Regions from separate parts of the Homo sapiens genome. Here all the other regions are linked to region 1. Evidence: fine-mapped expression QTL. A gene starts in region 1. Each other region holds a variant in brackets. All regions are shown on one strand. Distances are from middle to middle. Region 1 holds the start of RAMP1 (receptor activity modifying protein 1). Region 2 overlaps RAMP1 (receptor activity modifying protein 1). Region 3 overlaps RAMP1 (receptor activity modifying protein 1). Region 4 overlaps RAMP1 (receptor activity modifying protein 1).

Evidence for each region. PIP is the estimated chance that this variant, and not a neighbour inherited with it, causes the effect.
Region 2: its variant is fine-mapped to the expression of RAMP1 in esophagus muscle (GTEx, PIP above 0.99).
Region 3: its variant is fine-mapped to the expression of RAMP1 in whole blood (INTERVAL, PIP above 0.99).
Region 4: its variant is fine-mapped to the expression of RAMP1 in whole blood (TOPMed, PIP above 0.99).

What each region holds. Positions count from the first base shown.
Region 1 is chr2:237,856,710-237,861,857 of GRCh38, reverse strand. RAMP1 (receptor activity modifying protein 1) reads right to left here and starts at 2,235. Exons shown (of 3, transcript NM_005855.4): 1 at 2,131-2,235. The coding sequence starts at 2,182. RefSeq lists enhancers at 2,848-3,634, 3,635-4,423.
Region 2 is chr2:237,883,833-237,888,980 of GRCh38, reverse strand. All of the region lies in intron 2 of RAMP1 (receptor activity modifying protein 1), which reads right to left. Among named protein-coding and RNA genes, the nearest start is that of RAMP1, 27 kb to the right of the region's middle. The variant G/C (reference allele first, on the strand shown) is at 2,660.
Region 3 is chr2:237,903,016-237,908,163 of GRCh38, reverse strand. The region is part of intron 2 of RAMP1 (receptor activity modifying protein 1); the gene reads right to left. Among named protein-coding and RNA genes, the nearest start is that of RAMP1, 46 kb to the right of the region's middle. The variant T/C (reference allele first, on the strand shown) is at 2,859.
Region 4 is chr2:237,895,929-237,901,076 of GRCh38, reverse strand. The region is part of intron 2 of RAMP1 (receptor activity modifying protein 1); the gene reads right to left. Among named protein-coding and RNA genes, the nearest start is that of RAMP1, 39 kb to the right of the region's middle. RefSeq lists enhancers at 1,915-2,024, 2,105-2,154, 2,122-5,148. The variant G/A (reference allele first, on the strand shown) is at 2,270.

The DNA.
Region 1 (5,148 bases):
TTTTTTGAGACGGAGTTTCACTCTTATCACCCAGGCTGGAGTGCAGTGGCATGATCTCAGCTCACTGCAACCTCTGCCTTCTGAGTTCAAGCGATTCTCCTGCCTCAGCCTCCCAAGTAGCCGGGATTATAGGTGCCTGCCACCATGCCTGCCTAATTTTTTTTGTATTTTTAGTAGAGACGGGGTTTCACCATGTTGGCCAGGCTGGTCTTGAATTCCTCACCTCAGGCGATTCACCCACCTCAGCCTCCCAAAGTGCTGGGATTACAGGCGTGAGTCACCATGCCTGGCCGGATTATGAGATTCTTAATAACTACCTAAGACAAATAGCTTGATTGTAAAATTGTCACAGATAAGTTCTTAAACCTGTAAACTAGAGTACTTAAAAAAATTCCACATTGCCATTCTTGGTAGCAAAATCTTCATCACCAAGGAGACCTGGCTAGTGCTACAGCTTGGGAAGGAAACAGCCTGTGCTCAGTAATTCTACTAATTACAGCTGGGCTCCAATGACATTAATTTACTGATAACCTCATAAAGTTTTGTTTGTTCTTCCAAGAGATAACATTAGCCAGGCCACTCAAAATAACGTTAAAATTACAGGACTTTGGACTTTCGGCAGAACATGAATAGTTTTCTCGGTAAACAAGGAAGGTCTTTATATGTGATCGTGACATAGTGTTTTATTTACACAAGCTTTAGAGGGTTCAGCCTCTGGACACTAGTAAAGAACGTTTATTTATTTGGTTATTTATGTAAAAAATATTCCACAACCCAGCTCTCTGCCTTGCTAACAAAGAAATGTTTGTTTCTTAGTAAATGAAAACAGTGAAGGCCATGTCAAGCCAAATGGAGAGAATAAAATTACTGCGAGATTCTGCTTTCCACGTAACTTCAGCCAAAACTCTAAAGTGGCAAGATCCGCTTTCAGATTATATTATATCGGCCTCTGAGGATTCTATGCAGATCTGCCACCCCTTGGAGAGGTTTACAAATAGGGAACAGAAATCCATGGCTCCCAAGAAGCCCTGGCCCCTCTCCTCGCTGGGCCACGAACCACTCCCCCAGCTACAACAGCGCCGGTGGTCCCTGCTTGCCCAGTGCCAGCGCCAAAGAGGTCTTGTGCGGCAGGTGCCTCTGACCAACATCACTGTTTCCGGGGAAAGGCCACACATACCAGAAACAACTGCTCCGGCCTTCCCAGGGACACTGGGTTCTCCCACGCCAGTAACCTATTCACAGTTTCCGTTAAAAGGTAGCTAAATACACGGAATAATGCAATAGCCAAAGCGGTTTAGAAGGGGCTTGAGTTAGCATTTTAGGAACACATTACAGACAAGGGAAGTGAACAGCACCGTTTCTTGCCGAGTGTGTGGCCAGTTCCTGTGGCCATGAGGCTGCCGCTAATCTCCACTTCTCCCTCCAAGTGGAAAGCCAAACGTGTTCCACCACTTCACCAAGGGACCCGTCCTTCTTTAAATTTCTATTAGCCAAAAGTGCCAAGTTAACAAGCAAACCAAAAGAAAAAAGAAAAAAAGCGATGGAAGTGTCCCGAAAAGGGCTGGCCTCATTTCTGCAAAAGACGTGATTTGCAAACAAGCAACTGCTGCAGGCGACAGATTGTCAGTGTTGACTAATTTCCATACAAACCGGCTGTGGTTCTGATTCCCGAACACTGCGTCTTCTGCAAGGTGCCCGTCTGCAGGTTTTGCAACGCGGGACGGCCTAGGGAAGGGAGCCTGCGCTGGCAGTCACCGCGGCGCACAGCCTGAGAAACGAGGTGCGGGGCTGGGGAACCCCGCGTCCTGTTTTTCCTTCTGAAAACTAGTTCTCCAGTGTGCAGGGCTGACTCACCCCACGCTTTCCAGAATGCCCGCTCTCCGACGTCCCCAAAGCCGTCCCTTCCCCGGCGAGAAGCGCAACACCGGTCCGCGCCCTCCGCCTCCCCTGTGCCCTGGGGCCTCCCGCCTGGAACCGGGGCGGCCCGCGTTCAAGGGCAGCGGATCTGTGCGCCCGCGGCGCCCGCCCCCACCCGCTCCCACCCGCTCCCACCCGCTCCCCTCCTCTCCCCTAGAGGACACCGGCTGGCCAGGGGAAGGGAGCTCGGCCGGGACCCCTGGACCTACTCACCCAGGAGCAGCCAGAGGCCGCGCCGCGGGAGGCGGCACAGGGCCCGGGCCATGGTGCACAGCGGTGCCGAGTCGAGTCCGCTCGCCACGCGCCCCGCTGAGGACTGAGCCCGCCGCGGCGCGGGCCCGGAGGAGACGCGCCGGGGGCGGGAGCGGGCGCGGGAGCGGTGGGAGGCGGCGGCCGCGCGGCCCGGCCCACTGCGGCTCCCCGCGTGGGTGCCAGGGCCGGGGGCGCCCAGGGCCGGTAAAACTTTGCAGGGGGGCCGCGCGGGCGTCTCCAGGCCCCTCCCGGGGGGCGGCACACTTGGGGTCCCAGGAAGGCCTCCTGAAATGTTCTCCGAGCAAATAAACACTTTTTAAACTAGGGAGGGTCTCCTAGACGACTCAGCGTGAGGGGCACCTTGGTCTCCACCTGGGGATCTTCCCCTCCTCCTCCTCCGAGGTTCTGGGCGTTCCTGCCTGGTGTTTGCCTTGCAAAAGGCTAAGATCTCCCAGCCTTATCTACCTCTCCGCCCAGGTGCAGGCGCTGGGGAGCGTGGGGGGCAAAACTCGCCACCGCGCCTGGCGAGACCCGTAGTAACCCAAAATGGCGCACACTTACCAGGCCCTGGAATGCTGCTCCAGATCTGCAGGATGAGTGGGTGGGCAGAGGCGGGGACAGCACGGCAGGTGAACAGAAGCCGTGGGGCTGGAGGAACAGGGCTCTTTGGGGGGATTGAGATGGCCTGGGAGTCTTGCTGTTGATGGGTAGGTAGCGAGAGCCTGGCAGGAGGTTGTGAGGGCCTGGCCACAGAGTCTTGAGATGAGGTTTGCTTTGGTGGCACTCTGGCAGCTGCATGGAAAACTGATGGGGGATCTTGGGTACATTCGTTTATGTAAAGTGGTGAGAGGAGGGCGCTCTGGAGATGGGCCGGGGAAGCCTGCGGAGGAGCAGGTTTTGGGAGGCACAGGCCTGGCCTCTCGGCATTACTGGTGGCTGGATTTCACTTGCAGTGGTTCCTTCTTGTATTATCCTGTTCCGAGAACTCTTAGCAACAGTAAATTTATACTTGTGCTAAGGAATGCACCACTGCCCTTGGAGGGGGAAGAATCACCACCCTGGTGCTGCGGCCACAGCTGTCTCTTTTGTGGTGGAAGCTGCAAGCGCACAGCATTGCTGAGTGACCATCGTTTTCTCCTAGGAAAGGGAACAGTCTGTGGCTGAGAGGCTGCTGCCACCTGCAGTAAGCTCAGAGAAGGGGAGACAGCTGACAGCGAGGTCATCCACTGGTTCTTCTAACACAGGCTGGGAGGGCACTCAGGGCCAGCATGCCTACCACCTGTGCAGGGGCCCCAAGTGTTCTGAGAGTGAGGGGTGAGATGGTGGGGGAGGGCACACATTCTCTTGACTTGATTAGCCCTTGTTCTTGAACCCTAGGAGATACACCCCATTGGGTGGCCTGGCATCCCTACTTTCTTCATTTAACAGACATTTGTGTCCCTATGTGCAAGACACTGTTAGATCGACAAGCCCTGCCCTTCAATTGGTGAATCTAGGGGGTGACCTCTAAGACTCTCAATAACATGAGCGCCACAATACAGGAGCCACCCGGAACAAGGGACACTCGCCTCAGCTGCAGTGCAAGTAAGGAGACAAAGGATTCTGGACAAAATGCAGCCCAGGCAGTCCTGAGGGCTGGGTGGAGAGAAGGGCACAAGGGAAATGCAGGCCCGAGCACAGGCCTGGCAGCCAGAGGCCGTGCCATGTGAGAGCAGCACAGCTAGTGGGGAAGGGTGGCTGCCAGCACAGCCCTGGGACAGGGCCACCGTACATCCTGCACTAGGCGATGGCCAGTCATAGTGGGGGAGAAGAACCTGCATCTTTCTGCAGCCATCACTCGCCCTCCATATCCAGGGACTCTGGCTTGAGCCACCCTTTCTACTTGTAGCTTGTGGACTTTGGCTGCATGTTTTTGGTTGGCAACTGGGACTCCTCTTTCATCAGGCTCAGCAGGAGTCTTTCTTCCCAACGTTTTCTCTTTGAAGCTTGACTGCAAGGAGGCAAGGCCAGAGGCCCCTGTCACTGCTGTTTTCTCAACACCCCCTAAAGGATACATTTTCCTAAGAAGACAAAGCCTATTTCTCAAGTTCACATGCTTTAGAAATTCACAGTTCTCTGGAGAATGCTGAAGTAAGGCACACACCTAGAGGCATGTTCTCTCCTAATGATTTTCCTGTCTGTACCTTGGGTCTAAGTAAGACATTCCTTAGCAACTACTATGGGCTTCCCGTCTTCAAAAGTTGTAGTCTGATGTATCTGTATTTCTAATTGGTCATAGGTAGCATGGAAAATCATTCCTCTCCCAGGGTACCTCAATCTAGAGGGGCATTAGGTTAAACAATAGAAGAGATTAGAAAATGGCCAAGTGCTTTACTGCATACACAGTAGGGCTAAAGATACAATCAAAGCCTGGTCAACACTGCTAAAAATTCACTATTAACATAAGATTCCTGCTTCCAGCCGAGATGAAGTTACAGGGACTGGACTCACCTTCCCATCTTAAACTAAAAAACTGGACAAAATGTATGAAACAACAGTTGTCACAGTGGACCACAAGAAGTGCAGGGACCCCTGAGAGCAGGGAAACAAATAAGGTGAGTGCTACAACTGCTCACTGCCTGGAGTTTGCAGACCACAGATGGAGAAAGGAAACCCAAAGAGAGTCTGGGGAAGCCAGGCAGTTAACGCTGGCAGGGCATAGTACCAGAGAGGAAAGAGCTGCGCAAAGAATGCGCTTGCGAGATCACAGAGGGTCCCACTTGAGTCTCAGCCCACACATCTAAGGACACTACCCAAGGGAAAAGAGCCTAAGAGCCCACACCCAGCTGGGAATAGTTCCAGTTCCCACCAACCATAGTGGAAAAATCTTGAAATACACAGAACATCAGAGCATAATTAGAAGGGCAAGTCCCTCTCTGTAGTCAGTAAAAATTACAAAGGCTATTCTGGTGCTGCCTAACAAAACTTAAAAGCAAGAAC
Region 2 (5,148 bases), 27 kb before region 1:
GCCAACATGGTGAAACCCCGTCTCTATTAAAAATACAAAAAATTAGCTGGGCGTGGTGGCGGGTGCCTGTAGTTCCAGCTACTCAGGAGGCTGAGGTAGGAGAATCACTTGAACCCGGGAGGCAGGGGTTGCAGTGAGCCAAGATTGTGCCGCTGCACTCCAGCCTGGGCAAGAGAGGGAGACTCCGTCTCAAAACAAACAAACAAAAAAAAGAATTTGTAAAAGAAGATTAAAAATACCTCCAATGGGCATATGGGAAATCTCTGTACCTTCCTCTCAATTTTGCTGTGAACCTAAAACTGCTCTAAAAAATAAAGTCTTAAAAAAAGGAAAAAAGGGCAATGACTCACAGGACAAATAGGAAAGGTCATGGTGACGTAACTTGCACTTGAGAAAAAACAAATTCCAAATAACTGTCAGAGACCAGTTCAACTTTCCTAATTGCCAAAGACATGCAAACTAAAACTACAGAGGAAATCTCCTTTGACCTGCAAAAATAAAATCCCTACAAACTCAATACTCACGAGCCTATGAGGAACTAGGCATTTTCATATGTTGCTGATAGAATTATAAATTAGTAAAATTCTTTAGAGGAACAACTGGCAAAAATCTATCAAGAACCACAGAATGGGCCGGGCGTGGTGGCTCACGCCTGTAATTCCAGCACTTTGAGAGGCGGAGGTGGATCACCTGAGATCAGGAGTTTGAGACCAGCCTGGCCAACATAGTGAAACCCTGTCTCTACTAAAAATACAAAAAATTAGCTAGGCATGGTGGCAGGCACCTGTAATCCCAGCTACTCGGGAGGCTGAGGCAGGAGAATCGCTTGAACCCAGAAGCCAGAAGTTGCAGTGAGCCGAGATTGTGCCACTGCACTCCAGCCTGGGCGACACAGCAGGATTCTGTCTCAAAAAAAAACCCCCCAGAACCACAGAATGTTCATGGTACATGCTACAGTAAGCCTACTTGCATGAATTATTTCTCCCAGGAATGTCTAACAACAAAATCTTTTTTAAAAAAACAAAGGATATATGTACACAAGTTCTTATAGTGTTGTCATTTATTTCAGACAAGGTCTCACTTTGTCACCTGGGCTGGAATGGAGTGGCACAACCTCAACCTCCTGGGCCGAGGCGATCCTCCCACTTCAGCCTCCCTAGGACTACAGGTGCGCCCATTACACTCAGCTAATGTTTACATTTTTTGTAGATACCTGGTTTCGCCATGTTGCCCAGGCTGGTCTCGAACTCCTGGGCTCAAGTGATCCACATGCCTTGGTCTCCCAAAGTGCTGGGATTGCAGGTGTGAGCCACTGTGCCCAGCTCCATCATTTATAATAGCAAAAACCAGGAAATGGCTTTAACTCGAGCAGGAGTAGGGAACCACAGCGTGCCAGTGTGGCCTGCCCTAGAGTGAGGCGGCCTCCACTGCCTGGGCAGTGAGGGTAAACTCAGTCTCTTTTTCAGAAAGTGCATTCTCCATTTTTTGATTGAGACAAGAAGCTGAAACAAGAGTGGACTCAGACCCAAGGCCTGTCCCAAGACGCATCCCAAAGGGCACCCTGTGCTTAGGTCCCGCAAGATACTCGGTGTCCTCGAACTATGCACAGGGAAGGCTGTGAGGTGCCACTGCTCCCTGGAGGCCCTCCCACAGGGGACTGAGAATGCTGCTGGCCCTGCCTGTGCCTGGGAGATGTCTACCATCTGAGTGATGAATGGATAGATCCTGGGAGATGCCATGGCCCAGCCTGGGGGCTGGAGTGAAGGTCAGCATTAGGAGGGGACATCTGCTCTGTCCTCTACCCACTGCCCTCCCCACACAGGACCCACAGCCAGAGGTGTCACACACAAGGGCACATCTTCATCCTCTCTCCCCCACCCCACCCCCACCCCTTCCCCATGGGCAGCCCAGGAGGCCGCCTTCGGGGCTCAGTGAAGCCCTGTGTGCACAAACTGGCCTGTGTCCCAGGACAGCCAAGTCCCGTCTGCACAGCCTGGATGGTTCTAGGGCTTTCTGGGGGTGTGGCTGCTGTAGTCGAGTGTCCACAGGGGAGGCGGGGGTGGATGCTGAGCTACGACGAGCCCCCGCCACCAGACGTGTTCCACCTGCCCACCCTTTCACTCACTGCCGGGATCTGGTTAGCGTCACCGCATGTCTGACCTTTCGCGTTGACGCACAGGCCTGATTTCATCCCCATACTCAGGAGGATGTGAAACCAGGCAGTTAATCACCTGATGGGAAAGACGCCATGGTGGGCTCAGTGCCACGCTCCGCGCTAAGTCACCACAGGGTCTGGGGAAGGTCTCTCCATCTGTGCCTTCCCCCAGGGCCAGAAGACTTCCGAAAAAGATGTGCTGAGGATGACAAGGTGGTCCCTGGGTGTGGAGGGGTGAGGCCAGCAGTCGCCCGCTCCAGCCCCAGCCTCCAAGCTCCCCCAACACGAGGGCTCCTCTCTGTGGGTCCTCACAGATGCATTTCTCCTGGAGCTTTCTGAGAAGGGAAATGGGGCTCCTCCTCCCCATTCCAGAGCCCCCCAGCCCAGCAGGCAGGTGTCATCAGATCCTCTGGGGATCCTCATCAGAACCCACCATGGCGCGCACGTTAAGTGAGGCAACCCCTGACCTGAACACATTCCAGGGGCGGCTGCCAAGGACTCTGA[G/C]CCCTGGTTTATTTCTCCAGTGCTGAAAACCAGCAGAAGGCGCTCCCTGCACAACCACGGTCACGCGCGCCAAGGAGACTACAGGAAGGTGGAACGACACCCCCGTGGGGCGGCCTGGGCAGGGCCGGCATATCCCCAGCCACTGCCCCACTCTGCCCAGCCCTGGACAGCTGTGTCTACAGCTCGTCCCCATGGGGACCCGGCACCCCGGCTGATGCCTGCGCAGGCCACAGGAGTGGCGTCCTCAGGGGAGCCAGACTGGTGTCACTGCGCGAGCTGCATGTCTTTCCTGGCACAGCCACCTCCTTCTCTCCTCCTCTGCCCCCTTCTCCTCTGTAAGCCATAGCCTGGAGTCTTCGAGGACCCGGCTCCCAGGGGCTCTTCCTGCTCCTCTGCCTCCCGCGGGGCTGGCCATTAGTGCTGAAGGCCCCAGGAGGTCAGGGGTCAGCAGCCGGGTTTCCGTGCCCCTGGGGTGTGCTCTGGAGATGCCTGGAAAGATTCTCCCACCCAGGGGGGGCAGAGGGTGGGGGAACAGACATCTAGCCAGGGCTTTCCTCACAAGAACTGGCTTCACGCCTGGTGCAGACACACAGAGAGGGGCACGGCAGGAGCGATGGTGTGGCGGTGGGCAGGGAGGTCAGTAGGCAGGGAGGGCGGCCTCGGCCTGGGCAATGCTCGCCTTTGGATCCTCTGAGACCTGGCTGTGCTGGGCACTGCCATCTGTCCTGTCCACGCCTGAGGGCCTTTCCGTGGAGCCCACGCTATTCCACCAGCACACACAGGGATGACAGCACCACAGCCACCAGGGAGAGCACAGAGGGGTCCCAGTGCTCGTGGGCATGTGGCAAGTTCCAGGGCGGACACCGCCATGAACAAACCCACGAGGGCACCGAGGCAGCCCCAGATGCTGTACTGGGAGCTCCTGATGCTCACGACAGGCCTCAGGGAGGTGGGTGGGCTCCAGGGCCAGGCCTCCGGGCAGGGGCAGGCGGCGGGCAGGGCTCTGTGAACAGCCCATCCCGAGACCTCGTGGGGGTCGAGCTCAGCAGAAATCCAGGAGGACACCCTGCCCTTGGCCCAGACAGCCCTCGTGATTTCAGAAGAAGCCTCCCTCTCAGTTCCTGCTGAAATTCAAAATACAAGCAGCTGTTCCCATGTTGCTGCTGAGTTCTGAAGAATTTCCTGACTTGACTCTTTTAGCAGGAGACACAAAGAAGGCAGCAGGAGGGAAATGCAGCAGGCTGGGAAGGACCCCAAAGTGTTGGTGCACCCTGCCCAACGTCGTGTGGACCCAGAGCGTCATGCCTGGCGCTGGCCATGCTGAGCCGCCGTACCACAGCAGGCACTGCAGACATTTGTCTTGCGTCCCCCAACTACCACGCTGGGCTGCAGCCCCACTCCCTGGGGCCTGGAGCCCCGTCCTCTGAGCAGCTCCTTGGGCTGGGGGAGGGCCCATGATTGCCCAGCATGGGGTCGGCAGGGCAGGGCAGGGTCCGCAGTGACAGCCTCGGGTAACCAAAGCTGAGGTGACCTGAGGCTACCATGGTCAGTATTTACAAACCTGGAAGCTTTAGGGCAGAGGGACGGAGGCATCCCAGCTGGTATGGAAGTGAAGTCTGGTTCTCTGGGGCCCAGTGACCTCAGATGCTGGGAAGGCTGTGGCCCCATCCTCTGGCATCTTCCCCGAGGACACCTTTCCCCTGCCCAAGATGGCACTCAGACCCTGAAGCCATACAGGGTGGGGTGGAATAGGCGTGTCCCCTTCCCTCTTAAATCAACCGAGCATTTCTTATTTAGGTGAGGAAATCTGACGTGAGGCTTTTAAAAACCCATGTTTTATAGCCGAGTCCAGCACGTTCCAGATTCTTCTCTTCTCTGTTCTGCCTTCTCTCTCCCTCCCCTACACCCATAGGAAGGTCTCTGGAAATGAGAGTTCCCGATGACACATTTGCCAGGTTTTCTATACCTCCTCAAATTAGATTGTAGCTCCAGTTAATACATTAAATCACATTATGCCTCCATCAGCAAACCAAGGCTGCAGCTTAATGAGATGATAACCCCTGGTAAATGACGGCCCAGCCAGCTTGCAGGGGAGCCTGGCCCCGCTGAGCTCATTCAGCCACTTTTCAGGGACCTGTTCCATGTAGCTGAGTGGAAGACACCCAACACGTGTTAGAAAGGGCTCAGGAATCACCCCCAAGCCTTGCTCACAACAGACAACCTGACAAAATCCACCAACCAGGTAACAAAGCAACAGGATGAGCGGAGGAGTGGGGTCACGGTCAGGGCAAGGGCTGTCGGAACCCAGCAAGCACCTGCGTGCAGATCCATGCCGGGCAGCCAAGGTCCCAGGGCAAGCGCAGTGGCTACAAACCCTGAATGCGCAAAAAAAAAAAAAAAAAAAAAAAAGTGGACCTACAGGCCAGGGCAGGGACCCAGGAATGACCCCTGTGCAGAGGAGGAGCCTCTTTTTTTTTTTTCTTTTCTTT
Region 3 (5,148 bases), 46 kb before region 1:
AAGAGAAAGCTGAAAGCAGAGGGTGGGGCACCACACTGAGGAATCTCCTCCAGTGCCCTAGTCCCAACCCTGGGCACAAGGCAATGACAGCTCATTGCTAGAGGTACTTGAGGCCTATGGTACATTGAAGATAACCATAACAATGACAAATCCCAAACCCAGCTCAATTCCTAACAAGATTGACTCAAATCCCACACTAACGGTCTGACAGAAGAGGATTACCCATTTCCATATGTAAATACTATTGACCGTAGTCACCTCTGTTCTATACATGAATGTTCAGTATTCAATAAAAATTATATATTTTTTGTTCAGAAGCAACAAAAAACAACCAACCCATTGTCAAGAGGCAAAACAATGAATGGAGTTAGACTCAGAGACGACCTAGATGTTGTAACTATCAGACAGTTATGTTAGAATGGCTAGTATGACAACGGGTCTAGTGGAAATGGCAGACAATATGCATGAACAGATGGAGAATTTAAGCAGAGAAGTGAAAACTCAAAGTCAAAGACAGTTGCTAGAAATAAAAAGATATGGCATCAGAGAGAATTCCTTCAATGGGCCCATCAGCAGACACGAAAACTGAGGAAAGAGAGAAATTGAAGATGTCAGTAGAAATTAACCAAACTGGAACACAAAGAGAAAAAAAAGTGAGGGAAAACCAGAGCATCCAAGAACTGTGTAACATGACAATCCTATAAATGACATCAACCTCAACTCATAATGTGAGAGTCCCAGAAAGAGGAGAGGGAATGGAGCAGAAGAAATATTTGAAGAGATAATGGCTCAGGCTTTTAAAAAAATAATGAAAGACATAAAATCGCAGATCCAAGAAGCTTGGAGAACCTCAAGCAGGACAGAAAACAAAGCAGCTACAACAGCAAACAACCAAATAGACACATCAAACTCCAACTGCTGAGCACCAAAGAAAAAGGAAAAAATCTTGAGGTCAGAGGAAAAAAGACATACAGAAGAACAGTGAGTTACAGCAGATTTCTTAATTTCTTATCAGAGGCTTGTCATGTGGGAAGACAATGGGCAACATCTTGAAAGTATTAGAGGTTGCGGGGAGGGGAAACACATTTGTCAGCCTGGAATTCTATACCTAGAAAAAAATACCTTTTGAAAATGAGGTTGAGGCTGGGCACATTGGCTCACACCTGTGATTCCAGCACTTTGGGAGGCCAAGGCAGGCGGATCACTTGAGGTCAGGAGTTCGAGACCAGCCTGGCTAACATGGTGAAACCTCATCTCTACTAAAAATACAAAAATTAGCTGGGCATGGTGGCAGATGCCTGTAATCCCAGCTACTCGGGAGGCTGAGGCAGGAGAATTACTTGAACCTGGGAGGCGGAGGTTGCAGTGAGTTGAGATCACGCCATTGCACTCCAGCCTGGGTGACAGAGCAAGACTGTCTTTAAAAAAAAAAAAAAAAAAAAAAAAGAGGTTGATATAAGAACCTTTTGAGAAAAAAGCAGCTGAGAGAATTCATTGCCAGCAGACCTGTGCTACAAGAAATGTCAAAGAAAGTTCTTCAGTGATAAGAAAGAGTTTGAGATCCACATAAATAGATGAAGGGCTCCAAAAACAGTGAAAATGAAGACAATAGAAGGGTACTTTTCCTTATATTTAATCTAGAAAGTGAGTAAATGGATCAGAGGCCATAAATTAAATGTGAGGAGACCCCTGGGGGCTTTAAGAGGCTATACAGAAAAAGTAGGGGCCTCTCCGGCATCCCAGCACCCCTCTACCCCCGCCCCTATCGTACGGTCACTGTTTTTCCTTCCTGGCTGCCCTCTAGGTCACTGCCCTGAGTGTGCAGGGCCTCCCTTAGCCCATCCAAGAGGCCTAGTAGATGAGGCATGAGGAGGGAGAGGCAGCAGAGAGTGTGCCGTGCCTGTAGGCATTGGGGTGTGTGGTCTCTCCAGGTGAACAAGGACTCATGTTTCAAGAAGAAAACAGAAGTGGAAAAAGCCACATGAAGTCGTGACGGTTTGAGTCTCATCGTGGGGGAAAAACGAATGAGTGCACGTTATGTGGCCGGTCCATGGTAAATGTTAGACGTGTTATTGTTGCTGAAAACCAAGTCCAGCCTTCTCAACTACAGGGCTAAACAGTGAGAATGCTGCCTTTTTTTTTTTTTTTTTTTTGAGACAGAGTCTTGCTCTGTTGCCCAGGCTGGAGTGCAGTGGTACAATCTCAGCTCACTGCAACCTCCGCTTCCCAGGTTCAAGCGATTCTCCTGCCTCAGCCTCCTAAGTAGCTGGGACTACAGACATGGTCCACCATGCCTGGCTAATTTTTGTATTTTTAGTAGAGATGGGGTTTCACTATGTTGGCCAGGCTGGTCTCGAACTCCTGACCTCAGGTGATCTACCCTCCTTGGCTTCCCAAAGTGCTGGGATTACAGGCGTGAGCCACTGCATCTGACCAATGAAGCCTGCTTTGAATGATGATCCTCTCCCATATCTCAGACCCACCAAACCCGCAGGCAGTTTAGTTTTTGGTGTTCTGCAGATCCAGTGACACATGATCCTGAACACTGACCCCTGTCCTCTGAGGAGCGGAGCTGTGGCATTTTTAGGAGGAGCTATTGCCATCTCTGCACTGGCCAAACAGAACAGGAAGGAGCGGATGCAGGAAGCCACGCCACCACAGAACCCACGCCGAGGCCACGCTGAGGCAGATAGGGCCGTGTGTGGGTGGGCTATTCTGGGATCAGGCACTCTCTCCTTGATATGTCAGCCTTCTGGATTGCAGTGCCACCCACGTCTAAAAATATCTCTAATGTGCAGTCGGCTGCCCACTTCATCCTGTTTATTTATACAGAAGTGACAGCTGAAACTTTCAATAAA[T/C]GTTGTGAGCTCCGTCAGTGAGGATGTGATAAAAGAATTCCCCTCAGAGTACAGACATTCTTCTGCCCAAAAGAACACAGAACGGACTGAAGGACCCAAAATAGTCATGAAAAATACACCCTGGCTTTAACTCCCTAAAGTTTCAGTTCTCGTGTCACTGAGTAATTATCCTTTTTTGGCTAGGACCTTCTATTCTGGGGCTCGAAGCAAACTTTGCTTGGAATGTTCCTGAATCCTATGGTGGGAGTTTCCAGCATATCTGGGTCCCAAGTCAAGGCCCGACACCACTGTTCATGGTTACTTGCTGGTAAGAAAGTGTGATCACTGATGCTCACAGGTGAGTCATCTACTCTGGGGACACCCTGGGTTGCAGTTGTCCCCCAGCTACCCCCGGCTGGCCCTAATATGAAATATCTGAGCCTGGGCCCTGTCACCCATAGACCTGGGTTCAAATCCCAGCTCCACCTCTTACCCAGAGTGATCCTGGAGACCTCATTCGCTTGTTCAAGTCTTAGTCTCCTATTAAGATAAAGATACAGGTCCTCACTTGACTGGCTCATGACGTATACATTTCTTGTCCTTTTTGAGTTTATACTTAAGCAAAAGGTGACCAGGCAATGTGTGTCTAAATTGTCAGAAAATCTGAGGGGAAAGCACTTTTGGCTTTATATTCGCTTTTTAAAATTTATTTATTATTTTAGACAGCGTTTTGCTCTGTTGCTCGGGCTGGAGTGCAGTGGCACGATCTTGGCTCACTGCAACCTCTGCCTCCCGGGCTCAGGTGATCCTCTTGCCTCACCCTCCAGAATAGCTGGGATTACAGGCGTGCACCACCACACCTGGCTAACTTTCATTTATTTATTTATTTTGATTTTTATTCTATTTTTGAGACAGAGTCTTGCTCTGTTGCCCAGGATGGAGTCCAGTGGCATGATCTCAGCTCACTGCAAGCCCCACTTCCTGGGTTCATGCCATTCTCCTGCCTCAGCCTCCCGAGTAGCTGGGACTACAGGTGCCCGCCACCACGCCCTGGCTATTTTTTTTTTTTGTATTTTTAGTAGAGACGGGGTTTCACCGTGTTAGCCAGGATGGTCTTGATCTCCCGACCTCGTGATCCGCCCGCCTCAGACTCCCAAAGTGCTGGGATTACAGGCGTGAGCCACTGAGCCCGGCCCAATATTTCTTCTAGAAATACAAATGACTACTAAGCATGTGAAATGAAAGACCAAACATCCAGATGGCACTCCTCTTAAAAAGGAGAATGCTAGGCTGGGCGTGGTGGCTCACACGTGTAAACCCAACGCTGGGGGAGGCCTAGGCCGGAGGATTGCTTGAGCCTAGGAGTTTGAGAGCAGCCTGGGAAACATAGTGAGACCTTGTCTCTACAAAAAAATACAAAATGGCTAACACAGTGAAACCCCAACTCTACCAAAAATACAAAAAATTAGCCGGGCGTGGTGGCGGGTGCCTGTAGTCCCAGCTACTCGGGAGGCTAAGGCAGGAGAATGGCGTGGACCTGGGAGGTGGAGGTTGCAGCGAGCGGAGATCGCACCACTGCACTCCAGCCTGGGTGACAGAGCGAGACTCTGTCTTAAAGAAACAACAACAACAAACATTTGCCAGTGCTGGGATGCACCTGTAGTCCCAGCTAGTTGGGAGGCTTAGGTCAGAGGATCACATGAGCCCAGGGAGGTGGGAGATTGAGGCTGCAGTGAGCTATGTTCCTGCCACTGCACTCCAGCCTGGGCAACAGAATAAGACCCTGTCTCAAAAAAAAAGAAAATAATGCTGAATGCTAGTGAAGGTGTAGGATACTGAGGCAGGCACTCATAGCAATCCTCAGGGAAGATAAACTGGTACAATTTTTCTGAAACACAATTTGGCAATATGTATCAATAATCTCAAACTCACGGATGCCTCTTGACCCCGTAATTGCATTACTGGGAATTATCCTAAATTAATAATGTGAAATATAGATAACAGTGATGTAAGAAGGTGTCCACTGCAGATTTATAATTATGAAAAACAGCAAACAACAGGACAGCGGTCACAGAAATTGTTTATGAGTGGCTCCATTATGTAGCTGTTAAAATTATATTTAGGAAGAAAATTTTAAGATGTGGAAAAACATTTATGTTCTAAAGCTGGGCAGAAGAACAGCTCTCATGCCTGTGATCCTAGCACTTTGGGAGGCTGAGGCAGGAGGATCGCTTGAGGCCAGGAGTTCAAGACCAGCCTGGGCAACCTAGTGAGACCCAGTCTCTCTGCTAAATAAATAAATAAAGTTTTG
Region 4 (5,148 bases), 39 kb before region 1:
TGCGCCACAGCGTACAGACAGCCCGCAGCTGCCAGGAACGCAAGACACGTGGGAGACTTAAACACACCTCCCAAGGCTAGGTAGATAAACAGTAGCATAAAGTGATTATGAAAAATAATGTTAATAAACCGATGCAGTGACTGTCTGATAAAGGTTCTATTCTACAGAGACTCAGCCGGCTTTTCAAAGGCCCCTGGGTCTGTGTTAGGCGGCAAAAAGAGACTCATCAAATCCCCAGAGTATAAATCATAAGTCAATATTCTCAGGCTACAATACTGAAAACTAAAAATTAGTTTTAAAAAAAGGATAAATTTAAAAAAATGGAATTCCTAGAAATGAAAGATCATTTATATAATTTCGAAGTCACAGGAGAATTTAAAAATTCAATTACAAAATATTAAGAGAACAAGATCGGCAATACTATATGTACAAATGAATGGAATGGGGCAAAAGTGAATTCTGAGAAAAATTAATAGTTATAAATTATTTTATTAAACAAAAATAAATGAAAATAAACAAAATAAGTATCCAAAGCAAGATATTTTTTAAAAAGAACAAAATAAATCTCTCCAAATGGCACATAATTTGTCCATCAATAATTATTAGAAGCAATATAGGCCAGGTGCGGTGGCTCACGCCTGTAATACCACCACTTTGGGAGGCCGAGGTGGGCAGATCACTTGAGCTCAGGAGTTCAAGACCAGCCGGGGCAGCATGGCGAAACCCCATCTCTGCTGAAAATATCAAAATTAGCCAGGCATGGTGGCACACACCTGTAGTCCCAGTTAACTTGAGTGGCTGAGGCACGAGAATGCCGTGAACCCAGGAGGCAGAGGTTGCAGTGAGTCGAGATCGTGCCACTGCACTCCAGCCTGGGCGACAGAGCCAGACACTGTCCTAAACAAACAAACAAATAAACAAAAAACAAAAAACAGAAAAGAAAAAGAAGAAGTATAAGAGATTAATACGTAAAAAAGGTTTGTTAAAAATTGGAAAATCCTCAGTGAATTGGGATACTTTTTGGTTAAATTATAAACTATCAAATATCGACTTAAAAAGGAGGAATTCCAAGAAGAAAAATGGCAAATGTTATTAAAGAATTGCTGTTTCAAAAGGCACTAGATCCCAGGCAGTTCTTTCAAATTCTTTTTTTTTCTTTTTAATTGAGACAGGTTCTCACTATGTTGCTCAGGCTGGTCTCAAACTCCTGGGCTCAAGCGATCCTCCCACCTCGGCCTTCCAAAGTGCTGGGATTACAGGTGTGGGAGGCGTGAGCCACTGCAAATTCTTAAAGTGAAAGAAAAAGATGTGCAGCTTCCCAGTTCATTTAAAAAAGTTAACAAACCCTGATCCCAAGCCTCTTGAGATGGCATGACATGCGTCTCAACGCATGCGCACACGGACGGAACAGATGCCCTTCGCTTCCACCTATAAATAGACACTCAAGTCCCCTACCCAATGCTAACAAACTTCATCTAGCCACATAGCATATTTTATTTAAAGGAGGGCTAATTTCAGGAATGCTTTAAACCTGTTACTACAAAATCACACTTTAATACACCATGGGAAAAAAATGTACCGTCATTTTAATACGCATTGAGAAGGCATTTGAGAAAACTCAATATTCTTTTCTGATTTTAAAAAAGCCACAACCTTGAAAACACAGAAAGAAGCTATTTTCTTCATGTGATAAAAATCTCTCTCTCGGCCAGGTGCAGTGGCTCACGCCTGTAATCTCAGCACTTTGGGAGGCCGAGGCGGGCGGGTCACCTGAGGTCAGGAGTTCGCGACCAGCCTGGGCAACACGGTGAAACCCCATCTCTACTAAAATACAAAAAATTAGCTGGGTGTGGCAGCGTGTGCCTGTAGTCCCAGCTACTCAGGAGGCTGAGGCAGGAGAATTGCTTGAACCCGGGAGGCGGAGGTTGCAGCGAGCGGAGATCATGCCACTGCACTCCAGCATGGGTGACAGAGTGTGACCCAGTCTCAAAGAAAAAAAAAAAATCACTGTCTCAAACCAATAGCATGCACCCCATTTAGGACTGGAACACAGTGGCATTTTCGTGGCAGCCAGCAACAGGCTTATTTCGCATTTAGGCAGCCAGGGCTGGCTTCTCCCTTGTGGTTTCTGCCTTTGGTGTCAGGGCTCACACCCAGGATTCTGTGAATAGCGGGACCTTTCCAAAGCAGGGAGGGGCTGGCCACTTACTGCGCCACTTCCTCTGTTGACAGAGAGCCACGCTGTGGCCTGGCCTGGCGTGCGTCAGGT[G/A]TGGAGCAAGCACAGGGCCAGCTTGTCTTTAAGAGGCCTCAGCCCGGGCCCTGGGGATGTGAAAGCCCACGCAGTGTAGCTTCCCACCTACGTCTGCGTGTGTGAGCTCGGGAGCCTGGCTTCCTGTCTCACTTCTGCCCAGCACTGCTGGAGGCAGCAGAGAACTGGGCACCTTTTGTTTTTCTTGACACTGGGGAAATGTATAAGGAAGTCTTGTTAACTGTTTGATGAAAAGCACTTCAGCACACTGTGCTGGCCTGGGAAATGTGTGCTGGGCCAGCAGGCTCTGAGCCAGCTGTGCACACCTGGAACTCCTACGGGTGAGTGGCTGCTCCCATCCCCCTGGGACTGGCAGCACGCGTGAGGGAAAGACGGATATTGTACTATCAAACCCTTCCTAAATCAGGCTGGTCAGAGAGTACAATCAAACTAGGGAAAAGGCCAAGCATTAGAAGTCCTATGTACCTGTGCCAGCCCAGGGATGCCTACACATTTGACCTACTGCATTGCTGAGACAGGAATGCTTTGAAATAAGTGTCATCACTGCATGCAAATGAATATGTTAAACAGGAATTTTCCCCAGGCTCTGACTATGGTTTATCTATTTAAGTTGTATTAACAGGGACTTCTGACATCTTAGCAAAGCCATTTTCCCAACAGCATAAGGGGAAATGCCAACTCCATCCCTTTCCAAAGAATTACAGCATCTGGCCAGGCACAGTGGTTCCCGCCTGCAATCCCAGCACTGTGGGAGGCTGAGGAGGGTGGATCACCTGAGGTCAGGAGTTTGAGACCAGCCTGGCCAACATGGTGAAACCCAGTCTCTACTAAAAATACAAAAATTAGCTGGGCGTGGTGGTGCACGCCTGTGGTCCCATCTACTCAGGAGGCTGAGGCAGGAGAATGGCTTGAACTCGGGAGGTGGAGGTTGCAGTGAGCTGAGGTTGCACCACTGCACTCCAGCCTGGGAGAAAGAGCGAGACCCCATCTCAAAAAACAAACAAACAAACAAAAAACAAAACCCCCCCCCAAAAAACCAAAACAAACAAAAAAAGAAGAATGACAGCATCCACGAGAGCATGTGTTTCTGAGGTTTCCACTAAGACACGTGGATCTGTAAACAAGAAGCCTCACCATAGGCTTCTTGCAAATACTTCGCCAAATCATGGAAGCCAATTCCATTCCACACCTTTGTTACCAGCTAAATATTGCACTTTACCACTGACTAGGTGCTTGCTGAACAAGGAGGACAAAGGCCTCTCTCTTGCAGGAAAAGGAACAACATGAATAACGCACCAAAGAAAGAATCTTGGGAGGGTTCAAGGAAACAGGAGGAAGACAGATGAAACGGGGCTCAGTGTTCTCGCTGCTGTGGAGGAGGCCACAATTCCTCCTGCAACACTCGCAGTGACTGTAGAGCATGCTGATGAAGCCGGAGAAAATGGCCAGCCCTCTCTGCACGTTGAGCAGGGAAGGCAGACACGGGACCACCTGTGGCCTTATTCTCACCTCCCCTCGCTCATGGCCTGTCTGGGCCTCAGGCTCTGTCCTGTCCCATGTCATCTGCTCTTTCAGTCTCCCTCTTTCCTGGCCTGAAGTGAAGCTGGTTCTCCCATTCCTGGGATGGAGGCTGAGGCCCAGGCGGGGCCCGTGGTTGCATGCGGGGCTCTGGGGTCCACCTGGACGGATGCACACCTCATGATAGCTGAGTGCCACACGGGAGCATCCGGTGAGCTGCAGGCATGTAAAAGAGGGACCCACTGAGGCTGGGGCAGGTGACCCCACCATCCCCACGGACAGCACATCACACCCCCAGGACATTTAAAGGCCTGGCCCCTCTGCTGTCCAAAAGTCTAAGAGGCTGGGTGCAGTGGCTCACGCCTGCAACCCCAGCACTTTGAGAGGCCAAAACAGGAGGATCGCTTGAGCCCAGGAGTTCCAGACCAGTCTGGGCAACACAGAGAGACTCCCCCATCTCTACACAAAGTTTAAAAGTTAGCCAGGAGTGGTGGTGTGTGCCTATAGTCCTGGCTACTTGGGAGGCTGAGTCAAGAGGGTTGCTTGAGTCCAGGAAGTCAAGTCTGCAGTGAGCTAAGATCATGCAACTGCATTCCAATCTAGGCGGCAGAGTGAGACCCTGCCTTAAAACAAAACAAAACAAAGTCTAAGAAAATACTAAGACCTGTTTCCCCGCGTGAGTGTGCTTCTCACATCACCCGAGGGCAGGTGTTCTTACCCCCTCCTTACAGAAAAGGGCGCTTGCTGAGGTGATGGGGAGGTCCCTGAGGCGGCAGTGCAGACTGGGGAACGGTCCAGGGGTCTGCCTGGGGGCTGCTTGGCCCTCCCTGGGCCTGGCTTCCTCTGCCTCCCTCCCCTTCTCCTGCTATGGTGGCCCCAGGCCGGGGAGGAATCTGGGCGCCTCTGCCCATGCTGGGAGAAGCGAGAGGTTTCTAAATCCATCCCTGGCTCCATGTGCAGCCAGGTCTGGCACCAGACACAGCCTGGGAGCTGCCAAGTCAGGCTCCCCACAGAGCAGCCACAGCAGGCGGGCGGACGGGCATAATACCTCCTCTGAGAACAGGCCTGGGCAGCGCCCTGGCTCCTGGGGCTGCCAAATGAAGTGCAGTTTTAAAATGCAGTGGGTGTCCCAGGCAAAGTCACAGACTGTCCTATGCTGGCTGCATCTGGGCCTGAGCAGGGGTTGCATTGCGTCCCAGGGTCCGAGGATCAGGGAATGCTGGGAGATCGCTGAGCTGTGCCCATTGTGGGCCGGGTGCTGAGGGCTCACTACAACCCCTGGGAGGTGTCCTGGCACCCCTGTGGGGACACCCAGGTCTAGCTGCCCAGCTGTGTGTGATGGGGCTGAGACCACACTCAGG